4 linked regions of the Homo sapiens genome follow. The protein of the gene in region 4 interacts with the protein of the main gene of each other region in a pairwise test. Each region holds a gene or a part of one and is shown on either strand. Other genes may lie near its edges.

Region 1 (7,651 bases), on a different chromosome or scaffold from region 4:
TTTGCCACAGACACAGAGTTGATATTCAACACATTTGTTTGTTTGTTTGTTTGTTTGTTTGTTTTAGAGACAGGGTCTCACTCTGTCACCCAGGCTGGAGTGCAGTGGCACAATCGGGCTCACTGTAGTCTCAACCTCCTGGGCCCAAGTGATCCTCCTACTTCAACCTCCCAAAGTGCTGAGATTACAAGCGTAAGCCACCGTGCCCAGCCCAACACATTTGTTAAATGAATGATTGAGACAGAGAAATAAAGACAAGTTGCTCCATTCTATCCAGGCCATCCCCATCTCCCCAGGGCCCAGCAGAGAGCCAGACTCAGGACGAGTTTCCTGCCTGCACTGGGCCTTACCTTTTTGTAGATGGATGATGTCAGGGAAGTTGGAGAGCAGGCCCTGGTAGAGAGACAGTGTGTCCAGCATCTGGAAGAGGTCATTCTTGGGCTGCTCAGCAAACATCTCCCCGATGGCTTCATAGGTACGGCCCGTGTGAGAAATGGCACTGTTGAGGGCCTCAGAGCAAAAGGGGGGGTCCATCTGGAAGGAATGACTGATGGCCTGGAAGGCACTGCCCAGCTTCTGGAATTCCTTGCGGAAGCCCCCCACATGTTTACGCACCAGCTCTGATGCCACAGTGCTGAGCTGCAGGACGCTGTCGTCCATCTTCTTACTGAAGGCCTTGAAAGTGTCCACGCGATCTTCCACGTCCTGCAAGTCCTGGTGCTCGGTGGGGATCTGGAAGGTGAGCAGGAAGCTGGCACCCACCATCTCATCCTTCTCCGCCCGGCGTTTGCCCATCTTCCACTGCTTGTCATCCAGGCAGCTGAGGAAATGCTGGAAGCCTTCGTACTGGGAGAGCACAGGGTGGCTGGTCATGTGGTCCATCCAGAGGATGAGTCTCCGCTTCCGCTTTTCGATGAAGTCCTCCTCGAAGCGGCCAGTGGCCTGCTTCTCAGGCAGGTGGGGCACCGAGATGACAGTGAACTTGTGTAGCAGGCGGTTATAGAGCCAGTCAAAGTGTTTGTAGCGCCGGTAGACGGGTGAGGCAGCATGGGTGGGTGTGAGCTTGTAGGAGATGTAGCTTTTGATGCCCTTGAATTTGGTCTGTTTTGTGGGGTCCTCCACAGAGCAGGCAAATGGGTGGGGATTGGCCTTCCACTGGGGGCCACGAGGGCCCATTTCAATGGAGTATGTCTCAGCGATCTTGGCCATCATGGGCACATCACCCAGGATGAAGGCCTCCACTCCAGAACGCACAAAGCATGAGAAACGGTTGAGGTTACGGCCCACCACACTGCCTCGCTTGGCAGATGCCAGGCTGTCCTGCCGCTCCAGTGGTGGCTTGGGCCGGAAGGCCATGTGCTGGCTGGGGTAGGCACCAGGGTAGGAGAGGTTGAGGGGAGGGTGCCCGTTGGTGCCCAGCCCACCAGCCCGTGGCTCCTCCACCACTGTGCATCCGTCGTCCCAGTCATCCCAGTCATCATCATCATCCTCCTCAAAGCTACCCTGGTTTGAGAGGAAGCCACTGCCCCCACCACTCCTAGCTGGGCTGGCCACACTGGGGCTGTTGTACAAGCTCACCTGGGCTCCGGGAGAGCCTGCAGGGCTGCTGGAGTAGTCAGCATGGTTGGTGCTGATGCCAGAACGGACGATCTCCACATAAGAGGCAGGAAAGAGCCCTGTCTCCCCACGGCTGTTCTGGCCCTGCAGCCAGCCATCCAGTGAGGTCTCGCTAAAGATGACCAGGTCCTCATCCTGCTGGATGCTGATTTCCTCCTTGTTCTCACTGTGAAAGTCATAGAGGGCTCGGCCTTTCAGTGCCATGGCTGGGCTGGGTGGTATAGAAAGATGGGAAGGAGAGGGTCCTGCCCAGACCGGGGATGCTCACAAGGCAGTCCAAGAATGCACTCGCAGCTGAATGGCGCTTACACAGTTCAATCTCTCAGGTCCTAAGGTGGGGTCTCAGCACCCACAGATGCTGTCCAGTCTCCCCCTCTTCAAAGCAATGTCCATGGCCCAGAAACTGCCCTATCAGGTCTCCGGGCATATGCTTGTGAGCAGGGAGGGCTCATGTCCACAGTCTCCTCCTCCCTTAGCAGCCTCTGGGGGGTTAGAGGGGAATCTCTCCTAACTCCTACTCCCAGAAGAAAAGTCAAGTGACCTGGAGAAATCTGCCCTGCGAGGGGAAAAATTCGACACTTTCCACTGGAACAACGTTCTAAAATAGAAGAGACTCACTCTGAAACCACCATTCCAGAAACCCGGGCAGGGCTCGGCTGTCCCTCTGGCTCCCAGATTCTTTTGGCGGCTCTCGCTTTGGGAGGCTCTCACATTCCTCTGCAGATCTGCCCCTTCCTCCTTCCTCCTCTTGCTCCTGGGCCACTGGGTTTTCAAAAATCCGGAAAATCCAAGAGGGGCAAGGAGAAAAGCAGCAGCCGCCTGAATCGAGTCCAAGGGTGGATGTGTCCGGCTTCACAACGAGCCAGGCCGGGAAAACAAGGACTGAGGCTTACACAACAGGCCGCCAACTCTTCGACCCCGGCTGCGCAGCCGGAGCCCCCGCCGGCTCGGGCGCCCTCTCCCCGCCCCAGAAGTGGCCAGCCCCAACCCCGGAGGAAGGAGGGGGCGCGACGAGGCTGTCGGGCGACTTCTAGCCACTCGCTGAGTGGTCTCTTTTGTTTGCCTAATTCCTCAGCAGTTTCTGAGCCTGACGCTGACCCTGCTCTGAATCCCAGGAACCCCGTCCAAAGGTAACCCCAGCAGAAACCGGTTCCTCACCCGGGACTTACGACCCCCGATCACCACCCTCGCGTGCACGCACACACTCAACAGTTTGGAGTTTGGAGAGTGAGCTCCGGCGAGCAGATGGCGCGGCCAGCCGTCTGTCCGTCCGTCCTCCTCTCCGCCCTGCGGGGCCCGGCCAGTGGGGGGCGGGCTGCGCCCCCAGCCTGCCTTCCCCGGCGCTCGCAGACCCTCCGCTCCGCCAGCGAGAAGGCAGCTCCAAAACAAAAAGGCGATTCCGGGAGGTGGCGTCCTGAGGAAGGAGGGGATCGCCAAAGGGGAGGTGAGGGGTGGGGAGAGGGAGGAGGGAGGGGGAAGCAGGCTGGAGAATCGGGCAAACTCCGCTGCACTTCCGTGCGTCCCGGCGGGGCAGGGACGGCCAGCTCCGCCCTCCCGCGGGCCCGGGGCGCTGCAGCCGAGCCCCCGCCTACTCCTCCGCGCGGCTTCCCAGCTGGCCAGCGCCCTCGCTCGCTGGCGCTCAGTCCGGGAGGCGAGAGGGAGGAAACGACCCGGGAACGAGGGGGCCCGAGAGCCTCCGGGGCTGGTCCCTGGGACCGCCACCTCCCCTCCTCTCCCTCCGCCTGTCCGCCCTCGCCGGGAGACACCTCACGCCCCCGTGGTTGGAGCGCCCGGCGGGGGAGCTTGCCAGCTGCCGCTGCCTCGCTTCCTGGACTCCGTCATCCTCCTGCCTTTTCCGTGACGCAAATGGAGTAAAACTCCGAAAGTTTGCAAAGCGTGGGGCTGCAAGGAGCACCGCGCCAGAGCCAGGATCGGGAGATCGGGGTGGGGGGAGGGGGGTGCGTGGAAAGCCGCCGCGCCAGCTGGGGTTGGGGAGCAGAGTCGCGGACTCGCCTTCCCACCTTCCCATTCCCCACTCCTGCTCCGCAGGGACGGGTCGTGGCGCAGCTCAGAGATTGTTTTCCGGAGGAACAGAAACGGCCTGCGCGTTCCAGGCGTCTGACCTAAGATACCGAGAGCTGCGGGTGCAGCACCCTAGCCAGACAGGGCGACCCTGCCCTGGGCGACTAGCTTGGAAGGAGGGAAAGACACTACTCTACATCTGCAGCGACAGGGAACAAGTCTAGGTGCCACCCGGTTCCGTGTTGCTTAGTACAGCAGCGGGGACTGGATGTTCTGTGCTAGCCAGCGGCAGCAAGGAGAGAAGTGGTCAGGTAGAGAATCTTCGAGAAGAGGCAAGTGGGATCTGACCCTCGGTCAGCATATCGGGAACACTTTGGGCATTGATTCTGCTAGGCACTGTGCTGGGCACTGGGGAGTAGTACACCACAAGGCAGTCGGGGTTTCTATCCTGGGGGGCTTACAGTCCACCCTCTCTTGTCTTTAATCAATCCATTCTGTCTCAGTCATTCATTCAGCCAAGTCATGCACTCAAGAAACATTAACTGAGTACCTACTCTGCACCAGGCCCCTGAGCTACAAAGACAAATAAGACATTATCCTTATTTTCCAAAAGCTCAGATATGTTGTGACAAGTAGACAAATGCTCCCTGCCCAGTGTGACTAGTTAGTGCCATGAAAAGTGCACATGAGGGTACCTACCCCAGCCTGGGTAGAGCAAGGATCAAGGAAAGCTTCCTGAAGGAGGAAGTGCCTAAGATGAGGCAAAGGCTTCAGGAGGACTCCCTTTCCTGGCTATACCCTGGAGTCTTGTCTACCCTGTCTAGCTAGATCTTCCCTTCATTCTCTCCCTAGTCACTTATTGCAGATTAACTGGTACAAGGTAGTTCTGCTAAAGATGGATACCTTTGGCTGTTTTGAGGGACATGGTTCCCAGACCTCTGGCTCCAAAACCCAGTTTCACTGGTTCAGTGAGTGGATCCGACTCCCTTCGCAGGTCTGGCATTTGACCAGAATAAAGGCCTATGTACAAACCCCAGAAGGCTAGGTATCAATTTGCACAGAGAAATAAAACTGTCAAGCAGAACTGAATTTCTGCATCAATAGATCAAGGCAGTTTGGGCTACCCCTTGGGAAGCCCAGTTACCAGAAAGTTAGCTCAGTGAGTCTGGAACCCCCAAGAGGGGAAAGGGTATGAGGAGTCTCTCAGTCAAGTAACCTTAAAACCTTGCTTCCTGTCATGGGGCAGCCTTCATTCTAAAGACAGTTCGTCCTAGCATCTCTAAGACAGAATATACGTTTTCCCCACGTGCTTTTAGGACCCCCCCCTTCCCTGTGATCTATCTTCTGTCCACATAGCCTTTCTCCAAACTGAGTTTAACAATAGCATCAGGGCTGGGTGCAGTGGCTCACACCTGTAATCCCAGCACTTTGGGAGGCCAAGGCAGGTGGATTACTTGAGCTCAGGAGTTCGAGACCAGCTTGGCCAACATGGCGAAACCCCATCTCTACTAAAAATACAAAAAATTAGCTGGGCGTGATGGCGCATGCCTGTAATCCCAGCTACTCAGGAGGCTGAGGTAGAAGAATTGCTTGAACCCAGGAGGCAGAGGTTGCAGTGAGCCGAGATTGTGCCACTGCACTCTAGCCTGGTGATAGAGCAAGACTCCAATCTCAAAAAAAAAAAAAAAAAGATAGCATCAGCCAGGTGAGGTGGCCAGGAGTGAGAGGCTGCAGTGAGCCAAGATGGTGCCATTGTATATGTCATTATACTCCAGCCTGGGGGACAGATCGAGACGCTGTCTCACAAAAAAAAAAAAAAAGCAAAAAAAAGCATCTACTTCCTTAGTGCTTGCTGAGTGATGGACACTACAGTAAACGCTTTACCTTTATTAGTTTACTTAATACAATTGGGATTTCTGTTCACCCAATAGGGTCCCCCTCCAGCCCAACCTCCCCGAGGCGTCCTCAGCCACCACCCTTGACAGACTTTAGTTGGTTCCCAAACACTCAGTCACACATTTACAGACCAGCCATTTTGGATTTACTCCCACATGTGTTCTAGACGGGTTTTTTTGTAACTCTCAGGAGCCACCCTTATTTCCAGGTTCTTGGGAGGAACTCACTCCTCAGCCTCACTGAGATTTCCAGAACCTGTATCTTCCCATTCCCTCCCCTCCAGGGACCTTCTTCAGTCCTAGGGGAAACAGGCCATGTTAGCAGTCTCAGGAAACTGCACTAACCCTTGTGATCTCCCTATACCCTGCCCATTCCTATGGAAACAGTCCCTTTAGTCAAGTCTCACATTATTCTTTTTTTCTTTTCTGTTTTTTTTTTTTTTTTTTTTGAGACAGGGTCTCACTCTGTTGCCCAGGCTGGAATACAGTGGCACAATCACAGCTCACTGCAGCTTCAACCTCCCTGGGCTCAGGTGATCCTCCCCACCTCAGCCTCCCAAGTAGCTGGAACTACAGGCACCCGCCACCACATCCAGCCAACTTTTGTATTTTTGTATAGGGGGCTTTTCACTATGTTGCCCAGGCTGATCTCAAACTCCTGGGCTCAAGCAATCCTTCTGCCTCGGTCTCTCAAAGTGCTGGGATTACAAGCATGAGCCACCACCCCCAGCCTCTCACGTTATTCTCACTGGGGTGTGTTCTGTCTTTCCTGCTGGGACCCTGATTCATACACAGGAAACAGCATCCATCCCTCATCCAGGCATCCAATTTCCATCCTTTAGGAAAGGAAACAGCAAGGGAGAACTGTGCCCAGTGGTTTTCAGGCTGACTCTGCTGGTGGCAGCCTGCAGGACACACTGGACTATTACTGTAGGAATGCAGACAAAAGATGATGAGGGCCTGACATAGGGCAGGGGTAACAGGCTGGAGAGACAAAAATCTGGGAGAGCTTTTGGAGGTAGAATAGACTGGGAAAGCAACCAATAAGCTGCAGCTATTGAGTGAAGTATCAACCCACATGTTAAAAAAGATTTTTTTTGAGGCCGGGCATGGTGGCTACTGCCTGTAATCCCAGCACTTTGGGAGGCTGAGGTGGGCGGATCACGAGGTCAAGAGGTCGAGACCATCCTGGGCAACATGGTGAAACCCCGTCTCTACTAAAAATACAAAAATTAGCTAGGCATGGTGGCGTGTGCCTGTAGTCCCAGCTACTCAGGAGGCTGAGGCAGGAGAATCGCTTGAACCTGGGAGGCAAAGGTTGCAGTGAGCCGAGATTGCACCCGCCACTGCGCTCCAGCCTAGCGACAGAGCAAGACTCCATCTCAAAATTTTTTTTGACTCCACTTTCCCCACCAGCTATTGCCCCATTCCTCTGCTCACCTTTGCAGCAAAATTCCTTGAAATAGCTGTCTATACTAAGTGCGTCCAATTTTTTTTCTCCTGTTCTCTCTTTAAATCCCTCTGGCCAATCTTTTACTCCCACACTCCACTGAACTATTCTTGTCAAGGTCATCAATAGCCTTGGTGTTGCTGGACCCTAATGGTTATTCTCAGTCCTTCTCTTATTTAGCCTTTTGGTAGCATTTGACCTGGTTGATCACTCCTTCCTCCTGGATACATTTTCTTCATTTGCATTGGAGAGAACATACTCTCCTGGTATTTCTTCCACCTCACTGGTTCATCCTCTTCTCTCCAATAATTCTTTTTTTTTTTTCTTTTTTGAGACAGTCTTGCTCTGTCACCCAGGCTGGAGTACAGTGGTGCGATCTCGGCTCACTGCAACCTCCGCCTCCCAGGTTCAAGCAATTCTCCTGCCTCAGCCTCCCAAGTAGCTGGGATTACAGGCGCCCGCCACCACGCCTGGCTAACTTTTTGTATTTTTAGTAGAGATGGGATTTCACCGTGTTAACCAGGCTGGTCTCGATCTCCTGACCTCATGATCCACCTGCCTCAGCCTCCCAAAGTGCTGGGATTACAGGCATGAGCCACAGCGCCCAGCAAGCCTCCAATAATTCTTAACGTTAGAGTAACCACAGTAGAGTTGTCCTCTTGTCTTT
Region 2 (7,542 bases), about 37 Mb from region 4:
AGCTCAAAACCTTCCTTCTTTTAAGAACTCAAATGTTGAGGGGATGTCTTCCTTAATCCCTCATCCCAAAAGAGCCCTAAAAGATGAAAGAAAACTATTCTCCTTCCCACTCCCTAAACTTGCCCCCTTGTCTACAAAGTAGGCAGGCCTACTCAGCACAGAGGAGGGAGAAGGGAAGAGAGAGAAAAGACAAAAAGAAGAAACTGTACCTAACTATAGAAAAGTGAGACACTCCCCACCCTCAGCTCCACTGAAGTGCCCCCAGAGGAGTCTGGTCTCTCTGCAGACTCAGGGGGAAGGAAGGGGACTGGAGAAATCAGCCTTAATCTTCCACATCCCCTCTTCTGAAGATCCCATACCCCAACCCCCTTGCTTGTTCTTCTAAGGACATTGGAAGACTAATGGAGAGCTAAGATTTGTGTGTTTGTTTAAAGTAAACTTAGGCAACTATAGAGAAGATGGGATGTTACCAGGCCAGAGAGGGAGGGGAATAAAAAGAAACCATCAGACATTGACGTAAAACTAATTCACATCCACTGGTTTATTATTGATCACGGGGCATTTCACATCGACACTAAAATTCTTTATTGCAAGTTTTACAATAATCAAGTAAATTCAGTCCAAAAACACAATAACCACGATAGGGGTGGGGAGAGATTCTACCTATAGACTGCCTCTCTGAACTGAAAGTTCATTTTGATTTTCTTTTGGCTCCTCAAACTGAACAGCTCTGAGAGGCTCTCCAGATGCATTTAGCTTTGTCTGCTGTCTTCGCCCCCTCTCCTCCCACACCCCCCCCCAACAATAATACAAAAGAACTTCATAGCTTTGTTCTCCTTAAAATGACTTCCCCCTCACTAACCTCCCCTGGTGCATTTTCAATGCAAAAGGCCTAAGGAAAGAGGGGGGGAAGGAGGAGGAGGAGAAGGATGAGAATTGGCTTTAAAATTTCTTTCCTTTTTTCTTTTCCTCATTTCCCCTGAAATTCACCCAAGCCAGACCATCACACCTTGCAATATATAATTTTTGCAGCTTTTTTTCTTAAAAAATAAATAACCCCCCAAAATGGCCTTTTAAAAAAAAACACCCAGCAGGTACCATGCTAAGACAACATCACATGCTTAAAAGGGTCCTTAACAGTGGGAGGGAGAGGAGGGCAGGGGGCTTGTTTGTTTATCTGTTTTGTCTGTTTGGAACTGACAAGGGACAAGGTGAGAGGAAGAGAGAAAAGAACCTATATATATATATATATATATATATATTAAATTCTATAAATAAGAGTCAATTTGTGTGTGAGGGGAGGGTGGGGGCATGGGGTGGGGGCAGGGGTGTGAGTTATGTTTTATAACCTGGTAATGTCCTCTGCCCGTTGCTGCTCCGGCGGCGTGGCGCTCTGGGAGTGGTCTTCAGAAGTACCCGGGGTAGCTGCCGAAAGGGTGCTGGGCGCAGCGCCGGCCGGGGGTGCTGACCTGACTTTGGTGTTGGGGAGTCGGTGGTCCTTCTTCCATTTCATGCGACGGTTTTGGAACCAGATTTTGATCTGCCTCTCAGAGAGGCACAGCGAGTGGGCGATCTCGATCCTTCTCCTTCGGGTCAGGTAGCGGTTGTAATGAAACTCTTTCTCTAATTCCAGGACTTGCTGCCGGGTATAGGCTGTCCTCGAGCGCTTGGGTTCCCCTCCGTTATAATTGGGGTTCACTGGGGGGAGGGGAAAAGCAAATAGTGGGGTTCAGAGGCAGCAGGCTCCCCGCCCCCCACCCTCACCCCATCCTCAGCTCTGAGAAACAGGAGGAGGGAGTGGTGGAAATAAAGTCATCAAGCTTAAATGGGTTATAAAGAAGTTGAAGGAAGCTGAAGACTTTGTAGTGTAATAAGAGGGGAATCCTCATTGTAACGACACTGAATTATTTATGCGCCCTTAGAAAGCGAGCATAGTTTTCACACATACATAACAGATCGTAGCACATGGCTCGGACTGCCCAGAGTAGCTAAGCCATAAAATTTATGGGGGATGTAATTACCCATTCTCGCTCGTAAATCCAGTTCAATTGTGCTAACCCAGAGTCGCTCCTGGAGAGAGAGGGGGAAGGAGAGAAAGGAGGACGGGGGCCAGAGGGGGCCGAGGAGGGTGGGGAGCGCTAGGGAAGAAGGGAGGGAGGGGGGGAGCAAAAAGCAAAGTTGCCTACCCGTGCTAACGTGAATTTTTTTCATCCATGGGTAGACTATGGGTTGCTTGCTGGCGGCGCTGGAGGGATGGTCGGGGGCTGGCTGGCTGCAGGCTGGCGGGGCTGGGGACGGGGAGGCGGAGGCGCCTGAGAGAGGCGCCGGCTCGCAGAGCGACTGTGATTTCTCGGGGTGGTGGTGGCCCGCCTGGGCCGGCCCGTGGCCTCGCGAATTGCCGGGCCCCTGGAGACTGGTGCAGCTATACTGGCGCTCAGGGTAGCTAGGGCGCGGAGGCGGTGGTGGGTACAGCTCCTGGTGGTGATGCTGGAATCCCGATTCCCTGGTCCGGCCGTAATATTCCGGACTGTGTTCAGGGATGTAGCTATTTTGCGAATATTCTTCGCATGGAGGAAATTTCGGATCGATGTAGTTAGAGTCCATCAAATACGAGCTCATGATCATTAATTTCTGGAGTGGAAAATAATTTTTCTCGCTTTGTCGTTTTTCTGCTCCATAAAGCCCTCCTACTAGCTAGCGACCCTGTAAAGTTACTTTCACCATGTGACTCCTCCGGCCAATCACACGGAGCAACCCAGTCCCCGGATAAGGAACCGAATCGCTTTATTCAAAATGTATCCAATTTTTTTGTGTGTGTGGTGGTGGTGGTGCTGGGAGGCGGGGGTGGGTGGTGATGTGGGGTTAGCTAGCAGAGGTTGGAGTGCCCCCAGTGCACATCCCGCCAGACTGACAACCCTCCCCTGCAAAAGGAGATGGGAAGCTCCCGGCTCCCCTCCAAAGCCCGGGCATTGGGGGACTGTCGGGAGGCAGTGATTCAGCCCCCGCCCAGGGTCTCCCCTCAGGCCTCTGCTGGGCCCCGTGGGCCTCGGCTCCTGAGCTTTTCCAGAGGTCTCCATTCATGGCGATCGTGTCTCAGTCTGTGTAGGTCACGGGGCAGCGCCCCTCTTTCGCAGGAAGAGGAAGTTGAATGAGGACTGGAGTGGATGTTGGATGGGGAGGGGCCCAGGCTGAGCCGAGGAGGCTGGAGAGCCTGGAGTGCCCCCCATCCAAGGATACCAGAGTCCAGCCCCTCTTCCCCATACACACTCACCCAACCCTCTGGCCATGCGGCCGGCGAGGCAGGGTCCCAGCTGGACCAGGCAGGTAGAGGCAGCGGGATGCAAATGATTCTGACGTCATTTCTGGAGGTCTGGGGGTTGAGCCCCCGCTGAAGAGAGACAGGAAGTGGTTGGCAAAAGCAGAGTTCAGAAGTCTCGCCTTCCCCTGCTACCCACTGACCCTCCCTGCCCCAGCCCCAGAGCAGAGGATCTCTTCTACTGCTGGCTTCTGTTTCCACTCCCCATTCAGCCCGGCCTGCTATTTTCTGACAATTATCTCCAAGGAGCTGGGGCAAGGAGGAGAGCTTTCTGCCAGGAGTCAGTGCCCTGTGATGGTGCCCAGCCAAGATCCTGAGAGTTCTTTCTCTGTCCCCACAGAGGGCAGACCTAGCTAAGAGGGAGGCCTGTGTGGGTAGAGCCTGCTTGCTTCTGGCTAGGAGCTGTATCCATGTAACACGTGTGTTTACATGTAAACACGAATTCCTAAAGGCCAGCTCCAGGCTGCTTTCCAAAAACGGAAGGCTAAGCTCACCAAGTTGGGGAGGCACGGCCAGCCTTTGGGGTCTCCAGCCCATTCACACCCCCTGCTCTCTCTCTGCCACCCACTCACAGTAATACTCTGATGGAGGGGGGTGACAGGGCCGTAGAGGAGGGAGGGGGCCAGGAAAAGCTGCTTTCCTAACCACCACCCCCCCCCCCCAGCTAGGGGTGGTCCTGTCATGCCACCGATTCCAATTAACTGATCGCCCATAACTCAGAGTTGCGGGGGGTAGCGGAGGGGAGAGCCCAGGGAGGGAGCCGGGTCCCCTTGTTGTACTTGATAACAATTATAGTTTAAAATCATAGCTTGCCAGGGCTCAGCTATATTTTACTTGATAACAATAAAAGTGACACATAAAGTTAACTGTTTATGTTTTATTTATTAGACTAAATCTGCCAGCGGTGGTAGGAGCGCTTGCCTCGTCGCTACAGCTTTTATAGGGCTGTAAAACGTCATAAATCAGTCTCGCGGAATCGCCCGCACTCTTTGTGTCGGCGGCGGCGCAGGGCTGGCGGCCGCTGGCTGCCTGCTCCCTCCTTTCCACGAAAAGTCGTAATGTGATTTTTTTTCCCTCTGATTTTATTATTATGATCGCCGCCGTGATTAGTCAATCTACCTTTAATTCGCCGCCCTACGCTACCTCCTCCCAGCCCAGCCTGGTTGACACTTGAATAAGTACCTTTTAAAACGGCATAACAACTATTTGAGGGTTTAATTAGAACATCTGCAATTAAGGGAATGAGGAGGGGAAAGGGAAAAAAAAAATAAAGCCCTTGTGAGAGGGAGACTGAAGGCAAGAGATTCCAATCCTTTTCTCATCACCTTTGGGATGTTGGAGAGGGTCCCCACTTCCAAATTAGGGCTTCCCCAAAGGGCTGGAATGAGAGGGAAGCTGGACCCACAGCCGTGCCCAAAGGGTGCGGATTCCCGCCTGGGCCCTCGTTGCCTTCCCTCCTCCAATGCTTAGGCCCCCAGCCCCACCCCAGGCTCAGCAGGGCCAGGGCTTAGCTCCCAAGGAGCTGGTGCTTGGTGGTCCCTGAATACTCTCTCTCCAAGAGGACAGTGCCCATCCCCACTGTAACCAGGCCAGGTGAAGGAACAGGAGTTCCCCAGAGGCTGAACACCTCTAATGGAGATTCCCAAATTCTCAGAGTTGGCTGAGAACCCTTGCCCACTCTTGTCCGGAACTCTCTGCATGTGAGGACAGGCTGGTTTGGTTGGAGAGGAAGTTGAGACTGTGAGTGAGGGGGCGGAGGAAGGCTACTGCTTGGTTAATAGTGGTTTGGGTTGTGTGGGGTTGTCTTAATCATTGGTGGTGGGGGTGGGTTCATTATAAATTGCTGGAAGAGGGCAAAGGGAAACCAGTGCTGAATCCTAGTACCTAAGTCTGAACTGTAGTCCCAGATGGCTCCACCGGGAAGTCCAAAGCTCAGCAAACTTTGGTGCCATGTGGAGAGGGTTGATGAAGAGGGAGGAAACCTTCCCGGCCCCACTCCCAGTCTCCCTTCTAGGCCTGTACCTGGATGCGGCTGCCTCACCTGGAAAGGTGAGCTGTGAGCCTGACTCTCATCCTCTCAGCCCTCACACTCACCTTTTACCATCCGTGCCCTGACGCTAACCCTCTTTTCTTCAATCTTCACCCTCCTGTACTTGTTAAGGAGTCCTCCCCAATATGTTGCCTGTCACATCCCACCCCCGCCAGGTTTCTGAGCTTCTGCAGGGGGGTCAAGGAGACTGACTTTGGGCCAGTATAAGTAGTAGACACAGAGGGTTCAGATGCCCCCAACTGAATGTCAAGTCTGTCTTTGGTTATTATGGTTAACATATATGCGTGCACACTATTAATATTTATTAATATATTAAATGCCTCTTTATGCAGCTATAAATATGTAGAGTTTTCATTCCAGGTTCGTGCAGCTAATTCAACATGCACATCCAGAAAGTGAAATCTCCAAGATTCCCCCAAATGTGCCCACACTCATCTACATCATTTACAAAACAACAACAGCAACTCTCTTTGGGCTCCTATAGCTTAATAGCAAGGAAGTCGCCTGTCACATGGGTAAAATACCACACACATACACACAAACATTTTCACCTGGATATTATTACAAGCACAGAAATAAAATCCGTTGGAAGGGCTTTTGCACTTAGCAATGGCTTAATTGGGAGGGGGTGGGGGTACTAAAGCAGCTCTCATCTGTGATGAATCCTTGTATCTGGTCCTGTCTTCTTTTGTGTTTCACCCTCCTGCCTCCCGCCTTGCTGGCCCAGGGGCTGCACCTCTGCCCTGTCCTCAACCTCACTTTGCCCCAGTTTTATTTATTTTTATTTTTTCTGACTACCTTTTGCCAGCATCCAAATGCTCTCTGCAATTGCCCCTCCACCCCATCTCCTTTCTAAATCTCGATTTGGTTTCTCTTTCGGAAACACGTTTCAGTACAAAGCGCTTCCCTTCTGACATCGCTGAAGAAAAATATGTGTCCATTGTGTGTGAGGCCTTATTGTGCCTGGATTACCATACTGACCGTTGGATAACCCATATTCCTCCCCTCCCCAGTAACAAGCTGCCGGCTGAGAGAGCTCAGCGGCTCCATAGATTCTCTGCTGCATTAAAATCGTACCCCTCTCTGATTTTTCCAAGGGAGAAAAATAAATGGGTGAACCAATTCAGGATTTGGAGGGCAAAGGGAAGGAAAATGAGGGTCATTCCTTTCCCTACTCTTTGAAATGCAGGGTTTATGTGTGTGAATGTTGTTGTTGTTGTTGTTTTAGGGATTAAAAATTGCAACATTTCTGTTTCCTTTCACTCATATAAATTGAATTTTAGATGGTATGCAATCAGGCAATTCATTTCACTTTGATTTTTTTTTCCTTTGGGCAACTTGAAAACCCAAAACTAAATCAAGGCTCATAGCCCATTTTTTTCGTGTGTGTGTGTGTGTGTGTGTGTGTGTGTGTGTGTGTGTGTGTGTGTGTGTATGTGTTTGTCCCTTTCTAATGCCGGCAGCCAGGGCTAATGTATGCAAAAGAATATGCAAATCTTAATTGATTTTTTCTTAAATCTCTTGTCAGTAAAAGTAATGAATTGGTCTAAAATGATTTTAATAACCTGGATGTGTCACCAGAAAATACTCAACCTTTTTTCTTCTCCTGGAATCGCTTATAGTCTCAAAAAAAAAAAGCAATCATGGAATGTTAATTTGCCCCCCTTTAAAATATTAAAGATGAATTTCTCTTGTTTGTTTGGAGACCTTAGGCAAGGTCCTCTCATGGATTTCTCTTGCCTTGCCTTGCCTTCCTTGGAATTCAATTTTCCTCAAATCTCGTTTAAAGTGGCTTTTTAAAAAGTGGCCGCATTTTAATATTGGTTAGACAGAGTGACCTGCATTTCACCTCGGGTGTTTGACTTGTTCCAATAGTTCACTGCCATGGGGTTATTGATGGGGAAACTCCATTGAAATTTGTCTCTTCGCAAATGGCCTTTAGATCTTCCAGCGAGTTCAATAACTAGTTATAATGTGGAAGGGGAAAAATGAAGGCCCTGGGCTAACGAATCTGATGTTTCATTTTTATGCTGGAGAAATTGTTAGTTAGAGGTTGGGTTCCCCACCACCTTCCTCCCTCATCCCAGCCTCATTGACCCCCACCCCTCTTCAAGACTGCTGGATGATATCCTTTTTAAAATTTGGTTTGGGGTGTCCCTTGCTAACTTTGATGCAA
Region 3 (7,893 bases), on a different chromosome or scaffold from region 4:
TTATATTTAATATTATAAAATGTATGATAGCCATAAAACATTTTTAAGGGAAATTAATATGGAGCTACTGTGCAGCTTGGTCGAAGGACCAAAAGTCAGAGGGACAAATCAAGAGATTAGGTCATTAATCACCAAGGTTATTGTGAAAATATTACAAGGCTGACATGAAAGACATTCTTGTGTATTTCAACACAATGCTGCCCATACCTCCATATGGAATTAATTTCATTATGCCCAATCATAGTTGCTTTCCTGCCTTTTCCACCAGTCGAAGTTTATCAATTCCAGAGCAATCACTCAATAAACGTTACCTAGAACCTAACTGAAACCTATCGCCCTACTTCCATGCTGTTCACATTTGAGATTTACATGGTCACTGCTTCCCAAAGACGGTTATTTATGAATCTACTTGTTAAAAATCTTTGCCTGTAAAGCATCTCAATGTACTTATAACTAGCTCCGTATGAGTTTATCAATGTCGAAAACAGTTGAATATAACAGTTGTTAATCTTCATAACCGTGAAATCTGAATACGAGTTGTGTTCTCAGTTCATGGTATAGTTTTAACAAGTTTTTTTTTTTTTAAATGTTGCCTACTGTTAAGATCAGCTGTTTGATAAGCTAAGTGCTTTTCCAACGCTGTTGGAAATGGCAGCCTTATTTCTGATGGGACATCTAAGCAGGACGTTTTCTTACGCACCAAGAAACCAACTAAATTTAGTCATTTTTGTTTTGAGAAACAGTAACTTCCAAAATAGACATTTTGATGTAGCAGATTGAGTTATGGTTGTTATACTTTGATTTGTGGAGGTTCCTAGATATTCTTAGTGTACCCTTGATATTTAGAATCCTATTAAAGCTGAGCTTAGCACAAAAAAAATATGCTTTCCTAATGAACAGTCTTTGGTATTTCTGTCAAGGGTACCGTATAAGTATTAACAGCTGACTATATCCCAGTGCCAATGCTCACCTAGGTGTCCTTGGCATAGTGCAGCTCAATTAAACGTTTATTTAATATTTTATTTTATGGAGACAGGGTCGCTCTGTCGCCCAGGCTGGAGAGCAGTGGCACTATCATACCTCACTTCAGCCTCAGTGATCCTCCCGCCTCAGCCTCACTAGTAGCTGGTATTACAGGCATGAGCCACGCACCCAGACTCAATTCAACATTTGTAAGAGTATTCCTTGTTCGGTCTCCAAGTGCTTAACTTTTGAGAGCCGTGAAAAGCCCTCTTCTCCCAAGTTTAATCACATCTCCTATAAAATCTCATCCATCTGCTGACACTTCCAATAGTTTTTTACTTTTTTCTTTTACTGACCTAATCCTGAATAACCTTAAATTGCTGCTTTCCTTACTTCTCCTTAACTTCCCCAGACCTCTCTGCAAACTTCTAATTCCCATTCGGCTGAAACACTGTAATACTTCTAGTCCCATTATTACAAATTCTAACAAGTCTCCAAAAGCTGAAACTGACTTCTCCAAGGTGACCAGGCTTTCTTAGCGTTTCCAACTCTTTCCCCCTAGATCCTAGAAAATAACTTTACCCTGATACTCTTCTAGTTCCTTCCCTCACCATCCTTCTTTTTTCACGTTTTTACCTACGTTTCCAATTCACCTCATCCAGCTCTACCTCCGTATTACTTCTTCTCATTCCGAACTATCTCAAGTTTCCTAAAAGCACCTACTGTTCTAGCACATACTCCAAAATTCCCGCACTGCCTTTTTCTCCTTTCTCTACTCTTGGGACAAGCAATCACAATTCCTTCGACACGCAACTAGCTCCATCTTCCCTTCTAGGAAACCTTCTCTAGCCTACCCAAGCACTGTTAATCACTCCCCTCTAGATTATTCTACTACGGTAGCACTTCCTAAACTATACTGCGCAGTAATCACTAATTACGTGTAGTTTCTCTTCAGTGTTTTTCTCCTTCAAAGCAGGGTTTCTATTCTGTTCATTTGGACCCTAACAGTATACCAGGCATCGAACATTTGCTAACTGGAGAAATAAGAGCTCCAACATTTACTTCCTATCAAAGCTTTCCAATGCCGCGGTTTTCAAAAACCTAAGCATTCGACACTCCAATTTGAGAAATACCAGTGAATACCAGTAACTAAACTGGATGGTGACATTTGATGAGGCGAAAACAATATTTAAAATCAATTCCCCCTGTCGCCTCTCCAAAAGGGCATTTCCACATTGAAGTTCCAGTAATTCTAGGTGACAGGAAGCGCGCGTTCTGGCTACGAGCATCACACAACGAAGTTAATGTGGATGGGAGTGGGAGGCACTGCAGGGATAGGAAACAGCATAAGCAACGACTAGTAAGCGCTCGAGAGACGGCGGACTACTATTCTGCAACGTCTCTTAAACACACTGGCGCGCCTCACCTGATCTGGCGAGTTTCCTAGAGGGGCCGCTGAACCCACGTGACCAAAAGAGCTACATTTTTGCAGGCCAGGGAGTGGGCAGTTATCCCAGCCGGCCCTTGGGAATGTTAGGCAACCGGGGTTGGTTGCTACGCCAAAAGGTGAATAAGGGCTGGGGAACAGGGGCGGCCAGCCCAGTTTCACTGGGAGCCAGAGGGTGCAGCTTCGACACAGCCACAGTGAATGGAAGCTTGGGGAGCGCGGGGCAATCTAGGCATTCCCGCCGACCTCCAGAATTGCGTCAGAAGCTGGACTGACAGCGCCCTGAAACGTGAGGAAACTCAAAGAGGCGCTTAGGGCCGACGTGGGGCCCACTCGCGCCAACTGCTTCTTACCGACAAGTGAGAACCAGAAGCCGCAGAGACAGACGCCGCCGCCATCTTTCAGCCTGCCCAGGGGGTCTCCGCACTTCGGGGGCGGTCTAGGTTCTCGTGCTCTTCTCCAAGACTCGGGAGCCGCCCACCAGCGGGGACCCTAGGCTGAACCCCTGATGGAAAAGGGCAAGGGTGCTGGTGCTGGGCTTGGAAACCCCTGCAACACACCCCCTCAGGGCCGCCTACGCTCACAGCTTACACAGAAAGGGCAACACGTCCTAACGGACGTCTTTCCTAGCCAATCAAAACAGCAGACGTCTTTCTGTAGTAGGAGAGAATCCGCCTCTTCCCTGGTGACGTCACAAGGTAGCGCGTAACGGGGCCCGCTGGGGCAGACAACGCCGGGGTTACAGGCCGGCTCTGCGGGGATTCTACGGAGGGTCGGGCCTCCTCCAGTAAGAAGCGTGGGCGAGTAGTGGTGTCGCCAGTGGCAACTGAAGGGAGTAATGGAGATAAAACAAAAGCGAAGGCGAAGTTAAAGCACTCCACGAGTTCCCTCGGATTAAACGCCGGAGAGAGCGTGAATTTGCCTCGGGGACGCCTCTCCAGGTGAAGTATTTACCTTTTGGCCAATAACAAATAGGATTAGGAGGGACTTAACGATTTAGTCCAATAGAAAGCAAGGGAAAAAAAGTTGCGGCAGAGAACGAGCCTTTCGCGAACATTTGCTCAATTGGATTGGGGCGCTCTCAGCCAAACCTGGGACTGGCTGTTAGAAATAGCCGCGACCGCAGACCTTTGGGCGGGGCAGGTTCAAAGCGGATTTCGCGCGCTGAGAGCTCCGGGATGTCATTGGCCGGCGACATCCTCCCTTTGTGGGCGCTTCCTGCGTCGCGGAAGTTGGGAGTTGGGAGGAGCCATCGAATGACGCGATAGCCTTCGCAGCCAATCAGGGATGGGAAAGGGAGGCCGAGAAGGAAGCGGATCCACGGCCGCACAGCTAAACAGCAACCCCCTACCCGCTTCGTCTCCCTCCGCCGCTATCGGGGCCTAAGCGGGAGCGGCTGGCACGGCGTCACTGGGTGGGCTGGGGCGGAAGTGGAGGCGGAGGGAGACGGTGGCGTCGTCCGCGGGGCCCTGGGCTCTCGCGGCGAGGCCCTGGTGGGCGCGAGGCAGGGGGAGGGGGAGGAGGAGGAGCCCGCGGCCCGGGCGGCGGCGGCTCTCGGGTTCTCCGTAGGGCCCCGCCTCGGAGCGGGCGGCGGCGGAGGAGGAGACTGAGGAGCAGGATGGCGGCCTCGGCCCTGTACGCCTGCACCAAGTGTACCCAGCGTTATCCTTTCGAGGAGCTCTCCCAGGGCCAGCAGCTCTGCAAGGTCCGTGGGCTCCGGGAGGCGGGCGGGATGGGTGTCCTCGGCCGTAGCCGGAGGGGGCCGGGTAGCCGCTGCACTGCAGCCCCTCTTCGCCGGCGCCTCAGGGGTTTGGGAGTCTGGAGCCCTCGCCTCCCCACTCGGGGACCCCTTTTTCTGGGGGCTTGAACATTAGCTGGGAACGGACCCTGAAAGGGAGGCAGAATCGTGCCCTTTTCCAGGCGGCCCAGGAGGGTGCCGGGCCCCGTCAGCGTCTGGGGGTCTCAGGAGTGGGGTTGAGTGAGGCAGCCACCTGTCTATGCCGCAGAGACCCAGGGGTGGAGATGTTTTCATCTCGGTTTTCTGCCTGGTCTGTCCTCTTCTTCCACCAGGAGGCAGGGGACGGTTTTTGCACTTTCTTGCTAGGAACCCGAAGCCGCAAAGCTGATGGCATCCTTCTTCCCTGTCCAGGAAAGCGAAGCGACTGGTTTGGGAACAGAATGCTCTGATTTGGAGCTCCTCCCATCCCATTAAAGCCTGGATGCTGTCTGTGAGCAACGGTGCAAAATAATAAGTAGTTTCACATTTAACCAATCCTTGAAATAGGCCCTGACAGCTTTCTTAATTTGTCTGTAATATACCCCCACGTCTACTAAAGACAAAGACACCTGTGCCTTCCCTAAGGAATTATATTGTGATTGGCCACTTATATGATAAAGCATCCAGTTCTTTACGTTGGGGCCAGGTTTTATAAATGTTTTAGACTTTCACTAGGTTGGGTAAACAGTTTTCTACCAGAAAAGTGAGATTTGGGACTTTCAGAAAGATACTGACTAATGTATTGTCTTATTACAGGAATGTCGGATTGCACATCCTATTGTAAAATGTACTTACTGCAGATCAGAATTTCAACAAGAGAGGTTTGTATACTGAATAGTTTTTGACTGTTAAAGACAAGTGTTGTCTTTATGGAATACTTGGGGGTTGTAATCCCATGTTTTTATGAAAGTATTTTTAAAAAATGGTTTAGCCCCAGAAATTTTAAGTTGTAAACCTTTTATACATGGTGGGAGAGAGAATGTTGCGAAAAAAACCAGTGGTGGTTAATTTACAGTTAGACTTTATATGAGAGAAGGAATAATACTACATGGAAAATGTACAGCCTTGCTAATGAAAATGCAAATGTAAACAGTTATGTTAAACTAAAAAAAAATGGTAAAGCCTTAATGGATCTGAGGAAAGGTCTGTAGTGTTACCAACTGCCTTCCAAGGTGAAAATCTAATAATTTGTTACATAGAAGAGGAGTAGTACGTAACATTTTTAACAGTTCCACTCTGAGAGTATATACAGAAAGTAGCCTCAGAAAAGAACAAATAATTTCTTCATAAATAGGTGTGGGCATTATAATGTTGGACAGTAGCCAAGTGGAAGGTTAGGTAGGCACTGGTATTGTAATGCTGTGCAGTAATAGTGTCAAGTGTGAAGATTTTGGAGCTATATAGGAAACATTAAGATGTTTTGTTTACAAAAAGTAATATGCAATAAAAATGTATAAAAACATTTGTCATAAGTTAATTTGGGTAAAACAACTCTGAAAATATCCTTGTATATTTGAAAAAAATCCGTGGTCCTTATTAAAGTTTTAAGTACAACAAATCTTTGACTCATTTTATTTTGACATTGTGCTAATTACTTTAGAAAGCTACATAAACATGATCTATATACAATTTATTTTTCAGCAAAACTAACACAATTTGTAAGAAGTGTGCTCAAAATGTGAAGCAATTTGGGACGGTAAGTATGTCTTATGTTTTCATGTCATTGTTACCAGTTAATATTTTTCATAAAGCTGGACCTTTTAAAAAAATATGTACTGCTGGCTGGGCACAGTGGCTCACGCCTGTAATCCCAGCACTTTGGGAGGCCGAGGAGGGCGGATCACAAGGTCAGGAGATGGAGACCATCCTGGCTAACACGGTGAAACCCCATGTCTACTAAAAATACAACAAAAAAAAAATGAGCCGGGTATGGTGGTGGGCGCCTGTAGTCCCAGCTACTCCAGAGGCTGAGGCAGGAGAATGGCGTGAACTCAGGAGGCGGAGTTTGCAGTGAGCTGAGATCCTGCCACTGCACTCCAGCCTGGGGGACAGAGCGAGACTGCGTCTCGAAAAAAAAAAACTACTGCTATGCTCTTAGATATTTCAACATACCATATTTTATGAAAGACATTTTCTATAGATACTTTGATGGAAAGGTGATAACATTTAAAAACAGTCAAATTATATACCTGTTTTACATGTATTGAATCCAGTGTGAAATTTGTGAAGCTGTTCTTTAGAGATTCAAATATAGCAAATTCTTGGTTATGGAGAACTTATCCATAAAGTTTGCATCATCAGACTTTAGCCCACTTCAGAACAGCCTCCTCAGAACTATTTTTATAAAACAGCGCAATTAAAGATATTTATTCACAGAAGTCATGACCCAATCCTAGTACAAATTGTCTTATATGTATACTACAATCATTATAGGTATATTATACCAATATTATTTATTATTGGTCAAAAATGCTAACTTTAACGCTCTAAACTGCCCTGAATCATCTTTTGAATATCAAAGAAAATCAAGGTATGTTTTTATAGTTTATGTTGAATATGCTTGTTCTCATTTTTTCAAAGTTGAAAACTCACAGTATATATTCCTTATATGATTTGTACCTATATGTGATGAAAAGTTAACATTTTCTAAATAAATGATATGGTCATTAAGGTAACTAGGATATTAGTAGAAGGACGTTTCCTCAAATTCTTGATTCATGAGACTTCTCTACATATGTACCTTTATTTTCGTTCTTTAAAACCTTTTTTATGTGTAGTTTTTGTATTATCTAACAGACTATGCAAATCACAAATCTATTTCTCACGATCTTAGAGTAATAGTTACATGACTAGAAATAAATACTAGTTGAATGCATAGAAATATGGTATAAAAGTTATTGCATGTGACAGGGCAACAAACTTGACAGAAAACAAATTTTTTACCTGAGTTTTCTTAATTCCAGAAATATGTCTACAACACTGGGTATATGCTATGCCGCAAATATTTAATGTTTTTAAAAGTCTCAAAATGTGTATGTTTTTCAGCCCAAGCCTTGTCAGTACTGTAACATAATTGCAGCATTTATTGGTACCAAGTGTCAGCGTTGCACAAATTCAGAAAAAAAGTATGGACCACCTCAGACCTGTGAACAGTGCAAACAGCAATGTGCTTTTGATCGGAAGGAGGAAGGAAGAAGAAAGGTATGCTTTATTTATGTTATGACATCTTCTGGAAATTAAATAAAATGCCAAACAAGTTGGAAATTATAATTAATACACTACTGAGACTGGATCTATTCTTTAGGTCCATGAAAGCAAGTAGTTAGATGAAAGTGCAGGAATAGTGAGTTTTCTCTTTGTTTGCATGATACATAGATTCATGTACTATACTTTAAAAAATATTCTATGGTGGCTATTCTGTACTAGTTGGCTATCCCACATTTGGTTCAGGAGATTTAACTAATTGCTTAAATATCTCCTTTTACTTTACCCTTTTGCTAGTTACTTGACATCACTGGTGTGAAAAAAATACCTGATGGCACATTGGCACATAAAATTCAGTTACTCTTGTGCCTTTTGATAAAGGCTCATATTTGAAACTGTTGTTTGTTTTTGTCTACCTGCAGTGACTTAATGTAATAAGTATTTGTGTTCATGTGATAATTCCTTTGCCGATCAGCATTCACACAGGCCTCCTGTTGCCTAT
Region 4 (7,905 bases):
TTTGTTGTGTTGACATTTTAATTTAGCACTCAGAGGCCAATTAATATTTGAAACTCTTACATTCTGTTTGGCCTTGGGCATAAAAGGAGTTTGATATTTCACACTCCATCCTGGTACCTTATTTGAAGAACATCATGGCAATTCTCTTGAAAATGGAATCTCTTGAATTCCATGCAAGTTAACAATTGTAGCAAAAGAACTATTTTGTAGTCACCATGTTACCGTGTACTTAAAAGGCATAAAGCAGTCAGCAGTCTCCCCTCTTCCACCAGAAGAACATGTCTGGGTAGAGTTACGTGTTTGTAGCTAAGAAACATTTCACAAGTTGCTCATAGCACATCAGAACTCATAACTAGTTTTAGATTGGCATGTAAATTGTTCTGAGGGAAATTCTTATTGCCTCTGAGACCCTGCCATTCTGAGTTATTTGACAGTTTAAGGGAAATCATAATTAAAAAAAAGACATAAATAATAGCCTGTGCAGTGTGGTGTGCAGAAATAAGTAGAACCATTTCATTTAAACTCTGGTGAGCTTTTAATTGCCTGGATTGCATTGTGAAGCGGCCTAACGGTTGATTGCCTCCATTATGTTCCCTTGTTCTGTACCATTCATCCGCACAGTCTCAGCTTCAGTAGTTAACACAACAAAGTAACCACAACTCCACAACACACAGGGGTTTAAAAAAAATAATAATAATGAAAGATTTGCAGCACTTAGACACAGTCTTACATTTTTGGACTAACTACACAGAGTGAATAGAAAACATTTTGTCCGTCGGAAAATTCACAGAGAACAATTTGGGAGAGGGAAGAGGAAGAGGGAATACATAAAGGGGGTTGGAAGAGATGAGGTGCTTCAGAAAGATGCTAAAATGGGAATGCAGGTTCTGCAGCTGGGAGCATTGACACAGATTAAAAGAATTTGGCCAACATGGCCATTCGATTGCCAAGAGGCACCAGACAAAAGATTTTCTCTCCTCCTGCCCATCTTCATCCTCTTCCCAGCCCCCAACCCAGGTTGGAAAACTGGATTGGGCCTAAAAGCTTGTTTCTCTCTGTTCACTGGCCCAGAGCATCCCTACAGGCTGCAGCCCCCTAAGGGACAACAATGCAAATAGATGTCCCCAGATCTCAGGCACTGGAGCTGCTTAACTCTGTTCTGCCCCTTCAACTCCCAGCCCCCTTCCCTATCCTTCACCCCCCTCCCCTTTTTGAGCAATGGAGCTGGGAACCAATTTGATTCCCTTTTTCTCCAATGCAGCTGCAAGGCTCAGAGATACTGACATTTTTCCACTCTTATCAGTTTAATTACAGTTACCATGGCAGCAAAGTGCTAGTGCTTGGCAAAGGCCAACAAGAGATTTGCAAGACTGAGTTCAATTTTGATGCAGCTCACATGCAAAATAAAAAAAAAAAATAAGAAACATACATACACTCTAACAAAGAATCCCTTGCGGAGTTTATGCTCCAGCCTTTTGTGGTTGTGTCTTTGCAGCCACACAGGGATGGTTTGCAAAGAATGTAGCAGTATTTGTTGCATCTAGCAAGATTAATTGGTTTAAGCAGCAGTCTTTCAAAGCAGTTACAACAATAATATTTCGGTTCTTTCAGAAAGACACAAAAGCAGCGGAAAAGCAGAAAGGCTTTTGAGCGGCCAGGAGTGCAGAGCGCCAGCAAAGTGCATCTATGATAGACTGTAACCTTACCAAAACTTTTCTCCTTTTTCTGCATGAGTTGACTTAGGCGTGTCTGAGTTGCAGCAGCTTCGCATTGAGCACCAAACCCAAAGGTAGAAGTAGAAGGGGGTCTCCTTGATTTCGCTTAAGTGTGGACCTGGTGCGCAGCCTACACCGCCGAGGACCGACTATTGTGAAGCCACTTTGGGAGCGGGTCGGAGTGGCGGCAGGGGGTGGGGGAAGGGATGAGGACGGCCAGACAAGACAGGGCGCACACACGGAGCCCCTCGCAGTGTGCAAAATGATGGCGAATGACAAAGCCACATGCTTCCCTAACTCTGCCCGTAATCCTAAAATCCCAGCGGCCCCTTTTAGCTTCCTGGTAACAAATGGATTTGATTAAACTGTCACATGCAGCGTTAGCATAGCATATCATGTTCAATATGAAAAAGATCATAAATCTGACTTGTATTTCATAACAGCAATCTGAGTAGTCCCCGTAAAAAATGTGCTGCATCAGTTTGAATCTCAATCTATTAGGATATAGGCACCTTGGTCCAGGGACCTTCCCTCTTCTAGCCACTTCTGCCCCTACCCGCCTGCCCCCCCCCCCCGCCCCCATGCCCAAACACAGCCACTTTTCCACGGCAAAGGAACAACATTTTGTTATTATGGCTGCGTGGAGAGAGGCAGAAGCGTCAACAAGGACCAAAAGATTGTAATATCAACTCTTTAAGAAGTGGGGGTTCATGAATTCCAGCAAGTAAGGGGGAGGGGTCCGGAAACCCACCCAGGACTGAATTCTTTTCCTATGGGCTGGGAGCAAACACTTCCTAATTCCAAACTCTCCCTGCCCCTCTCTCCCCGGGAGTCAGGGGTGTGGAAATACTGCAGTTCATGGTGAACTTTGACTATTATCCACTCGAGTCGTACTTGAGACGTTCCGCGCCGCAGCCGCTCTCCCTCCTTCCATCAACATCTTCCGCCTGCATCTATTTCATGTCTCATCATAAAAATAATGAAGCCTCACATGATTTAAACAAAACCGTCTCAGTAGAGCTGCAGCCCGAGTGAAAGTTGCAGTGCGGAGCTGGGTTGCAGCTCCAGTTTATGCCTCATTAGCAGAGGTTGGGGAAGAAAAAAATACCCACATCCGCACACGCACGCGCGCACCCGCAGACACACACACCACAAATAAGCCGACGCGTGTGTACACAGTTGCTGCACTTACCTTCTCAATTAAGCGATACAGGGGGAGGCCGTTCAGTAAGCACAGTGGCTGCTTTGTAGCGCTTCTCCTTGGGAAAGGTCAAAAAGAAGCATTGTTTGAAAAAAAAAAAAAAGACGGGGGAGGGAATGTCTATTTTTTTTTAAGTTTAAAATAATGAGGTCCTCAAGGATACGCCAAGCAATGGTGTTGACCGCATCTGAGCCACAGGTGTCCTCCTTTTAGGCAACTGCAGTCCGAGGCTGTCTCTCTCCGTCCTGGTTCAAGACAACTTACCCCAGCAGCGTGCGAGGAGCCGAGCTGAAGGAAGCTCCGGCTCTCAGCTGCAAAATGCAATCCCTTCCCAGCCAGACATAATACAGCCAAAGAAAAGGTCACTCAGTTATTAGTGAGCCGGCGGAGCCCAGGCAGCGCTTGTCAAGACCACAGAGAAGCAGCTCCCTTCCGATTTAAGACTATTTACCTCTCGCCCCCACCCCTCCCCTCTTCTTTCCTTCTCTCCCTCCCTCTCTCGCTGGCTCCCTCGCTCGCTCTCGTGTGCCTGTTCTGCAGCTCAGTCAAGTACAGCCGCCCTCGGAAAGTGCAAAGCAGCCACGAGACAGATCGGGCTTTGTTGCTAATTTCCCAGGGTGAAAATTTACAAGCCTGCGAGTGCAGTCAGCACAACCACATGCATATGCTACTCACAAACGCTGGGGACAAACCCGCACACAAAATGTGACCTCTGCAGGAGTCGACTGAGGAAGGACCCTACCTCCTGGACCAGTCCAAAAGAAGAACTCCTGCGAGAGAGCTCCGGAGGAAAAGGGTAGGGTTCCTAAAATAACCAGGGCATTTTGGAATAGGTGGCTACATTTAAAGCAAATTGCCTTCCAAAGCCATTTCTGAAGCTACCAATTATGGAAATTAAAATAAAAGCAAGAGAATCAAACTGCTACCAGAATACCCTGGAAAAAGCACACAACCCTCCCCTTTAAGAAATGCCTGGAGGTGGCTGCAGTCGCTGGTCTGTCTGTGACTTCCATTCATGAACTCTCTGAAGTCGCTGCTCCGCAAGTCCGCCACACAAGCCTGGTTCAGGGGATCACACACACACTCTCCTTCCTCCCTTCCTCCCTTCCTCTAATGGCCCAAGACCCAAACTGTGAACTTGTTCTCCATTCACTAATGCTGACCCCCACCACCACCACCCCGAAACACACTTCCTGCAATTACTTGAATTCCTTACTATTTAAAACTCACACGCTCCAATGAAAAACAGCCAACAGCACTGAGAAACATGTTTTCAGGACTAACTTGGTCAAAGAACCATAGTTTCTGCACCATTACTGCTTTGTCTTCACAGGCTTGTTTTAAGGCCTTGACAGATTTTTTTTTTTTTTCTAATAGGTCCCATTCTCTCTAACCTCCTCTCCTCTTAACTTTCCTTGGCATCTATAAAGGCCACTGGTAGCTTTAAAATACCTTATTATTTTTCTAAGTTTTCAAACTTCAAAGTCACCCTCTGTTTGGGCTGCTCTTAAAGTACCCTCACCAGATTTTACAAAGCTTTGTCAGAGGTCAAGCTTAAAAATGGTCCACATTTGAAAGACACTCACTGAAATGTTTAAGAGCCAAGAAATATTCAATTGTTGAACTACAAAAAACTTTTTTTCTTCTCTTCACCATCAGTTTTAATCTAGCTCTAGTTTTAAAAAAAAAATCAAAGCACCCCCCCCATGAGTATTTAAGCTAAATTTTGTTTTTCTTCATAAAGAATAAAGGCACAACATTGATAACTAGTTTTTACCCCCTCCCTTTTGAAGGCTCATAATAAAATAGCCTGTGGTTTGCTTTCCTCTCCCTTTAAAAGGCAACAAAACTCAGAACTAACCTGAAAAATAACGATATTCACAGACGGTAGATTAATGAGAACCCCTTAGTTGACTTGTTCTGTACATAGGCAGATTTCTTAAGTTTGGCTTTTCTGGCCCGTCTAGGCAGGCATACATGCACTTCACCCATCCGCACAGCTCCCCACTGTTCTACCCCACCTCTCTGCTACAGCCACTCTGAAAACACCCCAGTATGTGTGAGTGTGTGTGTGTGCATATGTGTGCATGCATGTGTGTGTGTCTCGTGCGCTCTGTCTCAGCCAATGCACTGAGAAGAAGAAAAGAGGGAGGGAGGGAGGGAGAAGTATGTGTGGGGAAAGGGAGAAATAAAATCAAAACAAATGGTACAGCTAATGAGGACAATTAAATTAATTATGTTCAAGGAGATGAGATTTTTTTTCCCTCCAACTGTATGATCTGTTACCCCTCGCTGGCAACTGCTGCTCTGTAATTCATGGCAACTGATTAGTGCATCTATGCAAATCTTTGTTTAAATCATTCAACTAATTAAATGATGGGATTATTCCTCTGCCTACGGTGACATCATTCGCGGTAATTAGTACTCTATTTGGACTGTGGCAGTAAGATTCCTGATATCAACACCAACCTGCAAAGACATTAACCACTTTGTCACCTTTTTCTTAAGGGACAAACACCCAGATCTCTAAGTGCATCCCATCCTCTTCCTTTTTCCCCAATCTTCCTTTTCCTCTCAATTTTACCATTTCCCCCACACTTATAAGCAAGTAATACTGCCAAGCAAGGAGGAGAGAGAGAGAGAGAAGGAGAGACAGAGGAGAGAGAGAGACAGAGAGAGAGAGAGGAACTTAGCGAATAATATGCCAAACCACATGTGTAAAGGAATAAAATGGAATAGTTAACATTCAGCTCCATGCCATTCATTTTCCCCTAAAATGTAATGATAATTAGATGGGTCATAAAATGCTCTTCTTTTCATTATGACTGATGAAATGCATTAAAGCTGACAGGGTATTACCTGACAGTAATTAGGTTTTGTCATGAATTAAATTATTTGAAAGCAGGCTATCTCCCCAATCACGCAATTTACAGCAAGATTTTTTTTAATCTGTGCTACAGAAGGGAGAGAGATAGAAAATAGCAGTTTTTCTCTTCATAATCATATGAATTATTCACAGAAAAAATCATCAGAAAAACCCCGTGCAGATGAAGAGGCTTGCCACTTAATGTACTGCACAGATGTGATCATCAGCGGTTGCCGACAATGAAATATACAAGTGCACACAAAGTGATCTGGTGAACAAGAGGTGGAATTTAATCATCTTCTGCTGACACTTTGCGAAAAACACCATTAACCCTCAGCAAACTCCCTGTTTTCCTGGCTCCCCCCAACCCCAAAGTCTCACCCCTCCCGCGAGGGAAAAAGTGAAAGAAGAATTTGTGCTTTTGTTTACTCAGCCAAGCTAAAGGTTGGATCCAGCCAGGCAAGCAGTTTCTTCATTTCCTGAGAGTAAACTACCCAGTTTAATTACAGATCCTTTGGAAATCTTTGCGAAAGGATTGCTATAAAGAGCCAGATCTTTTTGGTCCGATTACCTTTTGCCTGTGCCCTCTTTCTGCAACTCATCATCAGACGTTTGATGAGAGAATTTACTTCATCCAGCCCCCATCCCAACACTTATTAAAGGAAAAAAAAAGGCAGACTGTCTTCTTCAGGGGTCTTATATTGTGATACCTTGATGAGGGGAAAAGGGGAGGGGAATGACAAAATGGGGTGGAGGAGGGTGCTGAGGGGGTGATTAGATATATACTACTTACCTTTGCCCAAAGGAGATCTCCCACAAGAAAATAGTGTGTATATATGTATATTTCTAAACACGTCTTCAAGTTTTCAGCTGTTTCTTTCTTTAAAACACACCTCACAGATTACTTTTGTGTGCGGGTGTTCAGTTACGATTTCTGTGGCGTCCCAGAGATGCTCCGGTTAGGTTGCCGTCTTTTTTTTTTTTAATTTTTTTTTTAGGGCAGCAGACAGGTTGTTGGGGGGAGGCAAAGGATAGCACACCCTGAAAGTCCAGGAGCAGTGAAAGGTCTCGGTCAAGGGAAGGATGAGGTTGATACTGCCCCCACCACACACACTCCCACCATCACTCTTCGAAATTCAGCAACACAAATGAAAGAAACCTCTGCTTCAGGCTTCCTGTCTTTCTTGTGTGCCTCTCCCTTTCTCACTTTCTTCCCGAACTGCATACAAAACCTGAGTGGGCCAGAGCTGCTCCTCCAGTATTTAAACACCTCGCCAGGTCCCTAGTTAGCAGCTTCCTTCAGCTCATCCAAGAAGCTGACAAGTACTGTTAGAGGAGGCTGTACATGTTGCTCTAATGGACCTCATTAAGTTCTACTTACAGATGTTCTCTTAACATAATTGATCTGCGGTGAGTTGAGAGGACTGCAACTTATTCCCTAGCCCCCAATTATGGTTGGGTAATTAGATCCCCAACCTCCAATTTTTCACATTCACCCTTCTAACATTCCAAAATATCAAAGTATCTCTCACCAAAGCTCCCCCTTACCGGACTCCACTCTACTCACTGTATTGACAGTTAGATCTGCTCTAACCTTTGTAGTGACGCCAGTTTTAATGGTGCATTCAGTCCATTGACAGAGCTGTGTTTTCTCCCCCAGCCTCTCTTCTCCTTTCCTCTCCACACTACCACCCCCACCCCACCCCCTTAACCCTCAGAAACAAAAGGGTAAAAAAAAAATCCTCTAACTTGTATAGTTTGTACTTTTGATAAAAGGTTTCAGTGATGAGCTTTGGCAGTGGTGCTTCCTTTCTAATGTCTTTTTATCTGTATTAATTCCTCAGATGAAAACTTTAAGGAACAATGAAGGAGAGAGGTAGTGCTCTGAAACGGTGAGAAGAAAAAAATTACACAGCACACCTGGGACAGATGAAGCCAAACTAGTGCTTTTATAATGCCAATCAGCAGGGCTGTTATCATCCCTCTAATTAGGAAAGCAGCCTAAAACAGAGAGCACTTGGGGAAATGGTAATGTTATGGTTTTGCACTTAAAAGGAGAGACATTTCCTGCACTGTAAGAATCTAGGATTGGGGCTGACAAGTCCTTTAATTAATGGGCAGGA

What was found.
Region 1: the proteins of LMO3 (region 4) and SNX33 interact in binary tests that used the Homo sapiens proteins (3 or more experiments, as listed by UniProt).
Region 2: the proteins of LMO3 (region 4) and HOXC4 interact in binary tests that used the Homo sapiens proteins (3 or more experiments, as listed by UniProt).
Region 3: the proteins of LMO3 (region 4) and CEP57 interact in binary tests that used the Homo sapiens proteins (3 or more experiments, as listed by UniProt).

The regions. Positions count from the first base shown.
Region 1 is NC_000015.10:75,643,273-75,650,923, reverse strand, and holds the start of SNX33 (sorting nexin-33), read right to left. Parts: upstream 3,013-7,651; 5' UTR 1,822-3,012; coding exon 351-1,821; intron 1-350. UniProt on the Homo sapiens protein: Plays a role in the reorganization of the cytoskeleton, endocytosis and cellular vesicle trafficking via its interactions with membranes, WASL, DNM1 and DNM2. Acts both during interphase and at the end of mitotic cell divisions.
Region 2 is NC_000012.12:54,049,006-54,056,547, reverse strand, and holds HOXC4 (homeobox protein Hox-C4), read right to left. Parts: upstream 2,714-7,542; 5' UTR 2,626-2,713; coding exon 2,187-2,625; intron 1,699-2,186; coding exon 1,343-1,698; 3' UTR 518-1,342; downstream 1-517. UniProt on the Homo sapiens protein: Sequence-specific transcription factor which is part of a developmental regulatory system that provides cells with specific positional identities on the anterior-posterior axis.
Region 3 is NC_000011.10:95,785,614-95,793,506, reverse strand, and holds the start of CEP57 (centrosomal protein of 57 kDa), read right to left. Parts: upstream 3,010-7,893; 5' UTR 2,809-3,009; coding exon 2,764-2,808; intron 1-2,763. Other genes in the region: protein FAM76B, read left to right, coding at 4,029-4,115, 4,944-5,008, 5,829-5,883, 7,233-7,388. UniProt on the Homo sapiens protein: Centrosomal protein which may be required for microtubule attachment to centrosomes. May act by forming ring-like structures around microtubules. Mediates nuclear translocation and mitogenic activity of the internalized growth factor FGF2, but that of FGF1.
Region 4 is NC_000012.12:16,603,159-16,611,063, forward strand, and holds the start of LMO3 (LIM domain only protein 3), read right to left. Parts: upstream 3,005-7,905; 5' UTR 2,908-3,004; intron 2,813-2,907; exon of another isoform or gene 2,656-2,812; coding exon of another isoform or gene 2,610-2,655; intron 2,222-2,609; exon of another isoform or gene 1,732-2,221; coding exon of another isoform or gene 1,707-1,731; intron 1-1,706.